2 separate regions of the Homo sapiens genome follow, and region 1 is reported to be linked to region 2. Evidence: microRNA targets listed by miRTarBase, many of them from high-throughput screens and not tested one by one. Region 2 holds a microRNA gene; the other region holds the end of a gene's coding sequence.

Evidence for each region. Region 2 holds the annotated microRNA hsa-miR-8062 (CAGUGAUUUGAGGAUUAUUGC, at 1,590-1,610, shown strand). A microRNA usually pairs through its seed, bases 2 to 8, with sites in the 3' UTR of a target mRNA and lowers its output. Matches are read on the target gene's strand: a 7mer-m8 pairs with bases 2 to 8, a 7mer-A1 pairs with bases 2 to 7 and ends in A, and an 8mer does both.
Region 1: miRTarBase lists LAX1 as a target of hsa-miR-8062. Seed matches in the 3' UTR shown: 7mer-m8 at 2,610-2,616.

The regions. Positions count from the first base shown.
Region 1 is chr1:203,773,679-203,778,084 of GRCh38, forward strand. It overlaps LAX1 (lymphocyte transmembrane adaptor 1), which reads left to right. Exons shown (of 5, transcript NM_017773.4): 5 at 197-2,694. The coding sequence ends at 1,003. Among named protein-coding and RNA genes, the nearest start is that of LAX1, 11 kb to the left of the region's middle.
Region 2 is chr20:7,370,029-7,374,434 of GRCh38, forward strand. It overlaps MIR8062 (microRNA 8062), which reads left to right and starts at 1,580; the gene lies at 1,580-1,664.

The DNA.
Region 1 (4,406 bases), not on the chromosome of region 2:
ACCCCCCCACCAATTGATTCCCATACTGTGGCCAAAAACTAGTTGTGATTTATCATCACATTTGCACTGTTGCTCTTCTTTTTTTTTTTTTTTTTTTTTTTTTTTTCAGAATATGCCAGTGGTATTTTCCAAGAAGAAAGGCTTTGTCCATATTTCTGCTTGCATCTGACCACTGGCTTCCTTTTCTTCTTCATAGCCCTCCCAAGCAGGCAATGCCTTCCAGGAGCATACAGCCCACATCCATGCCACAGAGTACGCGGTGGGTATCTATGACAACGCCATGGTCCCCCAGATGTGTGGGAACCTCACTCCCTCGGCACACTGCATCAATGTCAGAGCTTCCAGAGACTGCGCAAGCATTTCTTCAGAGGATTCGCATGATTATGTCAATGTCCCCACAGCAGAAGAGATTGCTGAGACTCTAGCTTCTACCAAAAGCCCTTCCAGAAATCTCTTTGTTCTTCCCAGTACCCAGAAGCTGGAGTTTACTGAGGAAAGAGATGAGGGCTGTGGAGATGCTGGTGACTGCACCAGTTTGTATTCTCCAGGAGCTGAGGACAGTGATTCACTCAGCAATGGAGAAGGTTCTTCTCAGATCTCAAATGACTATGTCAACATGACAGGGTTGGATCTCAGTGCCATCCAGGAAAGGCAGCTCTGGGTGGCTTTTCAGTGCTGCAGAGACTATGAAAATGTTCCAGCAGCAGATCCCAGTGGAAGCCAGCAGCAGGCTGAGAAAGATGTGCCATCCTCAAACATAGGTCATGTCGAGGACAAGACAGATGATCCCGGGACCCATGTCCAATGTGTCAAAAGGACATTCCTTGCTTCAGGGGATTATGCAGACTTTCAGCCATTCACACAGAGTGAGGACAGTCAGATGAAACATAGAGAAGAGATGTCAAATGAGGACTCCAGTGACTATGAAAATGTGCTAACTGCCAAGTTAGGAGGCAGGGACTCTGAGCAGGGGCCTGGCACTCAGCTCCTTCCTGATGAATGAAGACCCAGGTACCCAGCCATAAAGCCACATTGAGTAGTCTATCCCATAGGATTGACTACTGCAGAGTCTAGTGCAGACCCGTGATCACCTTAGTGCTTCAGTGGATTCACTGGTTAGATTAAAAAGAGGCTGAGATGAGCAGTGAACTAAGAGGCCACACAAAAGCAGAGGTTTGGGAATTCCAGAAGGGAATTCTTCTCAAGCAGAGTGTGGTTATCTCCTGTACCAGCCTAAGAATGTTTGCTGAAACTGCTTCCTAGAACTGTGAAGAAAGCAGGAAAGTAGTGCACAGTAGTCTAAGATTATTACCTTCATTAATACCAACAGGCTGCAAAGCAAGAGTATAGATTATTGTATAATCCAGTCAGAGGTCAAAAGGAAGGAAGAAGTTGGAGTGGAGTGGGGTGGGCAATTTCCATTTTAAAGAGTGTAGGCAGGCCAGGTGCAGTGGCTCATGCCTGTAATCCCAGCATTTTGGTAGGCCGAGGAGGGCAGATCACTTGGTGCCAGGAGTTCTAGACCAGCCTGGCCAACATGACCCATCTTTACTAAAAATACAAAAATTAGCCAGGCGTGGTGGTGTGCCCCTGTAATCCCAGCTACTCAGGAGGCTGAAGCAGGAGAATCGCTTGAACCCGGGAGGTGGAGGTTGCAGCAAGCCGAGATTGTGCCACTGTACTCCAGCCTGGTGACAGAGCGAGACTCCCTCTCAAAAAAAAAAACAAACAAAAAAGAAGTGTGGGCAACCAAATGTAGGTAAGGATGAAGAAGAACAGGAACTCTCACTGGTGGCTGATGGGATTGCAAAGCGTCAGGGCAGCTTTGAAAAACTTTTCAGCAGTTTCTTATAAGCATAACTTATCATATGGCCCAGCCATTTCACTACTAGAAATTGACGCAAGTGAACTGAAAACTTATGTTCACACAAAAACTCGCACATGACTGTTTATAGCAGCTTCATTCATAATTACCAAAAACTAGAAATAACCCAGATATCCTTCAACAGGTGATTGGATAAGCTGTTGATATCCATTCCTTGAGTTTATCCATACTCAACAGTAAAAAATGAACTCTTGGTTCACACAATAATATAGACATATCTTAAATCCATTTTGCTAAGTGAAAGAAGCTAGGCCTAAAAGTCTACATGTTGGGCGATTCTATTTATATGACATTCTGGAAAAGGCAAAACTATAGGGATGAAGAACAGATCAGTTGTTGTCAGGTTTGAGAAAAGGAGGGAAGTTTGCTACAAAGGGGCTGCAAAGGGAATAGGCTGATGGAGCTGTTCTGTATGGTACTGTGTGGTGGATACATGACAATATCCATTTGCAAACACAAGAACTATACACATGGCCAGGCGCGGTGGCTCACACCCGTAATCCCAGCACTTTGCGGGGCCGAGGCAGGGGAACACAAGGTCAGGAGATCAAGACTGTCCTGGACAACATGGTGAAACCCTGTCTCTACTGTCTCTAACATTTGTAAACCTGTCTCTAATTTGTAATTTGTAAACCCTGTCTCTCATATTTGTAAAACTACAAAAATTAGCTTGGCATGGTGGTGTGCGCCTGTAGTCCCAGCTACTAGGAGGCTGAGGCAGGAGAATCACTTGAACCAGGAAGGCGGACTGCATTCCAGCCTGGGCAACAGAGAAAGACTCTGTCTCAAAAAAAAAAAAAAAAAAAAAAAACTGTACACTAGACAAAGGGGCTTTTATTGTATGCAAATTTTTTAAAAATGAACAGACTGTCAAGGGAACCCAGGATGGTATGCAAATTGTGGCAAATGAATCTAATTGTATTATAAATGTATGATATCAACTCACTGAAAGGGATGGGGAAAAAAGAACTGACAAAGTTGGAAAACAATGTTTTGACTTATAACTGTAGATAAGGACACAAAGAACTGTATACAAAAACTGCACTCTGGTTGGTAAATTTGTATCTCACAGAGGCATGGCTTAGCAATTCTAAAACGACTTTATATGTATATTTGGGTTAAATAAGTCAATCTATTGTAGATAAGGAGAGACAGGTTAGTGTAAGAATTGAATTGCAGGGCACCCAACTGGTGTCCAGAAAGCTGGAAAATTGGTCAGCTGTTGGGGGGAGAAAATCCACACATCTGGTGTCAGAAGTGTCGTGAGTGAAAACAGACCATCACTCCACCAAGTGGCCAGCATTTAAATTCATGCCACACAGAGGGAACCATGACAGTCTGGTACTGATGACCATGCAGGGTTAGCCAGGGCAGCAGCAAGCGCATCGAAAGGACAATCCCATAGTCAAGTAAGGAGAAGTTTGTATCATATGTGAGAATGAAGCTTAAATGGACTGAACAAAATCTTAAACATTGGCATGACAGAATTCTCATAACTAAGAGGGGATGAAAAGTTATGAGATCTAAATTAGAAGTTATGAAGACATCTGTCACCCAGTAAGGGTGGGAGGGACAACGTATCAGTTGGGGGCAGGTCCTGGAATAAACTAAGCCAGCTCTTTTTTATTTTTTGAGATGGAGCTTTGGTCTTGTCACCCAGGCTGGAGTGCAATGGCATGATCTTGGCTCACTGCAACCTCCACCTCCCAAGTTCAAGCAATTCTCCTGCCTTCGCCTCCCAAGTAGCTGAGATTACAGGCGCCTGCTACCATGGTAATTTTGTATTTTTAGTAGAGATGGGGTTTCACCATGTTGGTTAGGCTGGTCTCGAACTTCTGACCTCAGGTGATCCACCTGCTGTGGCCTCCCAAAGTGCTGGAATTACAGGCGTGAGCCACCACACTGGGCCTTAAGGCAGCTCTTGCTTGTTTACACACCAACAAGCTGGATACCTCAATCAGCCAGTCACACTTACATACTCTCCCAAATCAAGAATGATTAATGCACTGTAGATTGTCTCATATTTAGATACGTAACTTTTCTGTTTATTTCTTGTTTTAAGAAATTTTTGCAAATGAATCAATGAAAAATTTTTTATTGAATGTTAATTTTTTTCTTTCCATTTATGGTTTTGTTTTCTCACATTAGTTGCCAGGAAATGTTGACTAATTGTCTTATCTCATACACTCGATGATGCTAAATATGAGGAAATTTTTTCAAGATTAGGATAGGATGAAAAAGTAGATATAAAGATAACCAAGGCCAGGTACAGTGGCTCACGCCTATAATCCCAGCTCTGTGGGAGGCCACGGCAGGCAGATGACTTCAGCCCAGGGGTTCAAGACCAGCCTGGGCAACATGGTAAAACCCATCTCTACAAAAAATACAAAAATTAGCTAGACATGGTGGTGCCTGCCTGTAGTTCCAGCTACTCGGGAGGCTGAGGTGGGAGGATCACTTGAGCCCAAGAGGTTGAGGCTGCAGTGAGCCATATTCTTGCCTCTGCATTCCAGCCTGGGTG
Region 2 (4,406 bases):
TTGATTTGCATTTCTCTAATTATCAGTGATGTTGAGCTTTTTTTCATATGTTTATGGGCCACAGAAATGTCTTCTTTTGAGCAGTGTCTGTTCATGTTTTTTTGTCCACTTTTTAATCGGTTTTCTTGTAAATTTGTTTGAATTCCTGTAGATTCTGAATATTAGACTTTGTCAGATGAATAGATAGCAAAGATTTTCTCACATTTCCCCTTACTGGGTATAAACCCAAAGGAATATAAATCTTTCCATTATAAAGACACATGCACACATATGTTCATTGCAGCACTATTCACAATAGCAAACACATAAAATCAACCCAAATGCTCATCAGTGATAGACTGGATAAAGAAAATATGGTACATTTACTCCATGGAATACAATGCAGCCATAAAAAGGAATGAGATCCTGTGTTTTGCAAGGACATGGGCAGAGCTGAAGCCATTATCCTTAGCAAACTAATGCAGAAACAGAAAACCAAACACAGCATGTCCTCACTGATAAGTGGGAGATGAACAATGTGAGCACATAGACACAGGGAGGTGAACAACACACACTGGGGCCTTTTGGGGGTGTGGAGGGAGGGAGTGCATCAGAAGAAAAAGCTAATGAATGCTGGGCTTAATACCTAGGTGATGGGTTGATAGGTGCAGCAAATCACTATGGAACATGTTTACCTATGTAACAAACTTGCACATCCTTCACATGTACACCGGAACTTAAAAAAAAAGAAGATATACTAGTTAAGGTGTATCCTTAGGCATTAGAAGAACTTGGAGATTGAGGTGCACTACTGGTATTCAGTGAGTAGGACCTAGAGTTGTAGATGTTCTACAATGTGCGGAATAGTCTCACACAATGAAGAATGAACCTGGTCTTATGTGACATTCATGTGGGTGAAAAACATATTTATATATTAAGCCTAAAACTTAAATTCATTTTACATATAAATACAAAGTATCTCTTTTACACTGTATTAATAGCAACTACCAGACACATTGAGAAAATATATTCTTTATTTTGTTTGGCAATTTCTCAATAATTTTTTGCTATTTCAGAAAATCACATCACAGAAGGCAACCCTAGTCATTATTTTTAGTAGCTACACAACATATCTACATCTGTAACTGACATTTAAGGTGATCCTATGAATGAGTATAAGCATGACAACTTAATTATATCTTCCAATGTAGTTATGTCCAAACATTGACATGTTGAAATACTTATTTTATCATAAATTATTTTCCTCTTAATTTCATTTGCAATTTATTTTTACAATATAATTAGACCATTATATTGACTTAAAGATAAGTATGTGGGTAGTTTATATTATCTATGGATTTCATTTTAGAGTAGTAAAGGCTGTGTTATAAAATATCTTATATAATTAGTGGCCTGATAGGGCTGTGGAGCAGGGCTCCAAGGCAGTGCTATTTCAATGAGGTCTCAGAATTGGCAGCAGAGAGCTTGTTAAAAATGCAGATTCTTGGACTCCACCCCAGACCAACAGAATCACACTCTCTCATGCAGCATCCCAGTGATATGTGATTTATCAAGCCTTCCAGGTGATTCTTCTGCTGCTCTTATGCATGCAGTGATTTGAGGATTATTGCTCACGGTAAGAAAAACATGAGTAATATATTGTCTTCAAAGAACCTATGCTCTAACAGGAGATGTAAAGATATCTTTCTACTTGAGTTGGATGAGTAAGAAAATCACAGGGATCATGATCACCAAAAACACAATAGAAATTTGGCAATAACCTAATTCCAGAGACTATACACTAAACATGACATATCAATAGCAAAAAGCTGGATTCAGAGACAAGTTTAAACCACACAACTCTGATTAAAATGAACAGGACTCATGCTGTTAAGACTCTGTACAGTTCTAAAAACATACACAGCAGAGCACTTAAGCCGTTCCAGAACACATCATTCTCTACTTTTTAACAGGGAGCAAACAGCTGGGATGTGTTACTAGTAAGCCATGTTTTCATAGGCTTTCTGGTTTTCTTTAGCCAAACTCTTACAACAGTCTTCGGACAAATTATTGCCTGAAGCTATAGGAAGTCTTTAGTTGTCTTGGAGAACTGCAGAGTAAGTCAGGTCTCAAAGACAACATGCCCACAAGGACTTGCCTTGCCACCTTTGGCCTTTCCACCTTGGAAATGCCTTCACAACCAATTACACTATTCTCAAATGTCTGTTTATTTTTAATGACTCTAGTTAAATGTTAAGAGTTATTCCGATGACCTAGTTCAAGACTCTAAGAAAAAAAGCTTAGACAAATCAATAGACTAAACTGGGAGGCTTGCAAAGAAATGAACAAGAATCTAATCAATATCTTAACAAAAGACCAACAAATGGTTGAATTCTTGTAGGCCTGCATGGTTCTGAGGCCGACCTTGCTTTTCAAAAGACATTAAAGAGTTCAATATGGAAGCAGTGTTGTGAGAAATCACTTTCTCTTTCTAGATACTCTCATGTCCACTTTTGCTCTGGGAAATGTGTGTGTGTGTGTGTGTGCGTGTGTCTTGTTTTTCTAAATTGTCAGTACAGTGAAATAGTTGTCATGGGTTCACCAAAACAATTTTCAGAGATTTTCTTTCTGAATTTTGTTGGGAAAAGTCCTGAAACATTCCCTCCACTTCCACACACAAAAAGGCAGCCTCCCTAAGGTTCTTCCTTAGGTTCCCCCGGCACCTACATGGGTATCGGCAAACATTATTGAATCTCAACAAGCACATTTATTTCAGATTCTACACATGAAGGGTTTTCAAAATACTCTTCCGTACCCATGGTTCATAAGCCCATGGTCCAGAACATCTAGTGTCTATTTTTATAGCCCACAGGCAATTGCTACAGCTGTATAACCCTATTGAGAATGAGAAAGGGAGAATGTCACTAATTCTTTTGATATCTTAGGATGCAAATGTCTATGTGCTAATGTCATCTGCATAAAAGTATATACTCCCCACTTCACTTTGGCTGAAGGCAACTACACATTAATGGTTACATCCCCTTTTGTACTAAGAGCTACTCAAGGAAACATTTAGCAACAGGTGGTCCTAGCTGCACTTAAACCTTTCCCCTAGGGAACAACACACGCTTATACTGTACATTCCCAGGCCAGTAAACCCATGACAAAGTTATAACTCCCAGTAGTCAGCTCATTTAGGTTTATGCAATAGAATCCATCCTCTTTTTTGGGAATGGAAAATGTATTCCTTTCTGAAAAAGAGTACAGTATAATAGAAGGCATGGGAAAAAATCATTCAAAATTTACAGATTTGGGAGATAATAAAAATTCTACCAATGATCAACTTTGGAATTTACAGTAATAACTTAAGATTTCTGCTCATTAACAGTGTCAGCATGTATAAAAATTAAGAGGTTTAAGAATCTTAGAAGCCCTGTGAAAGGAATTTAGAAAGTGCAAAGATACATGCATTTGAATAAAAATTTGGCGCTTGTCAGACCATGTTTTTTTTATTGATTTTTACAGGGTAGATATGATCAAAATATTAAGAGTCATGGGATAAAATTTCTCTAAGGAAACTTTATCACCATAATAATCATTGAGAACTTCTATAAGTCAACATACTGTGTAAGGCTTTTGAAATACGTAAATAGATAATACGTAAACCCTGAACAGCATACTGTTTCATGGCTTTTTTTTTTTTTTTTTGAGACATGGTCTCAATCTGTTGCCCAGACTGGAGTGCAATGGTGCTTACTGCAACCTCTGCCTCCCAGGCTTAAGCAATTCTCCTGCCTCAGCCTCCTAAGTAGCTGGGATTACAGGCGCGCACCACTGCGCCCGGCTAATTTTTGTATTTTTAGTAGAGACGGGGTTTCACCATGTTGGCCAGGATGATCTTGAACTCCTGAACTCAAATGATCCACCCCCTTGGCCTACCAAAGTACTGGGACTATAGGAATGAACCACTGTGCCAGGCCACAGATGACTCTTATTTGCCGAATTCAGTACATCACTTAGGAGCACCTGTATCCTTTGAGAGTTTATTACAAATGCAGCATCTCAGGCCTCATCCAAGTCCTCTGCAACCAAAATGTGCATTTTGACAAGATCATGATTTATATATATGTTAAAGGTTGAGAAGTTCTGGTCTGTAACACTCAATATTTCCACTTCAACCTTCTAAACTAAAGAATTGTGTGACTTGACCTGTCTTCTAAAGAAGCCTTCACTTTAGTGTCATTACCTTTGTCTTCATAAAATATTCTGTTTTTTTAATAATCATTTAGAAAAATCCAATAAAACAAAACTACAGTCATTTGTTGCTAAATGAGGGGGATAATACCTCCTGAGGAATGTGCAGTTGGGTAATTTTTGCCCTTGTATGAACATCCTAAAGTGTACTTACACAAATCTAGATGTACTTC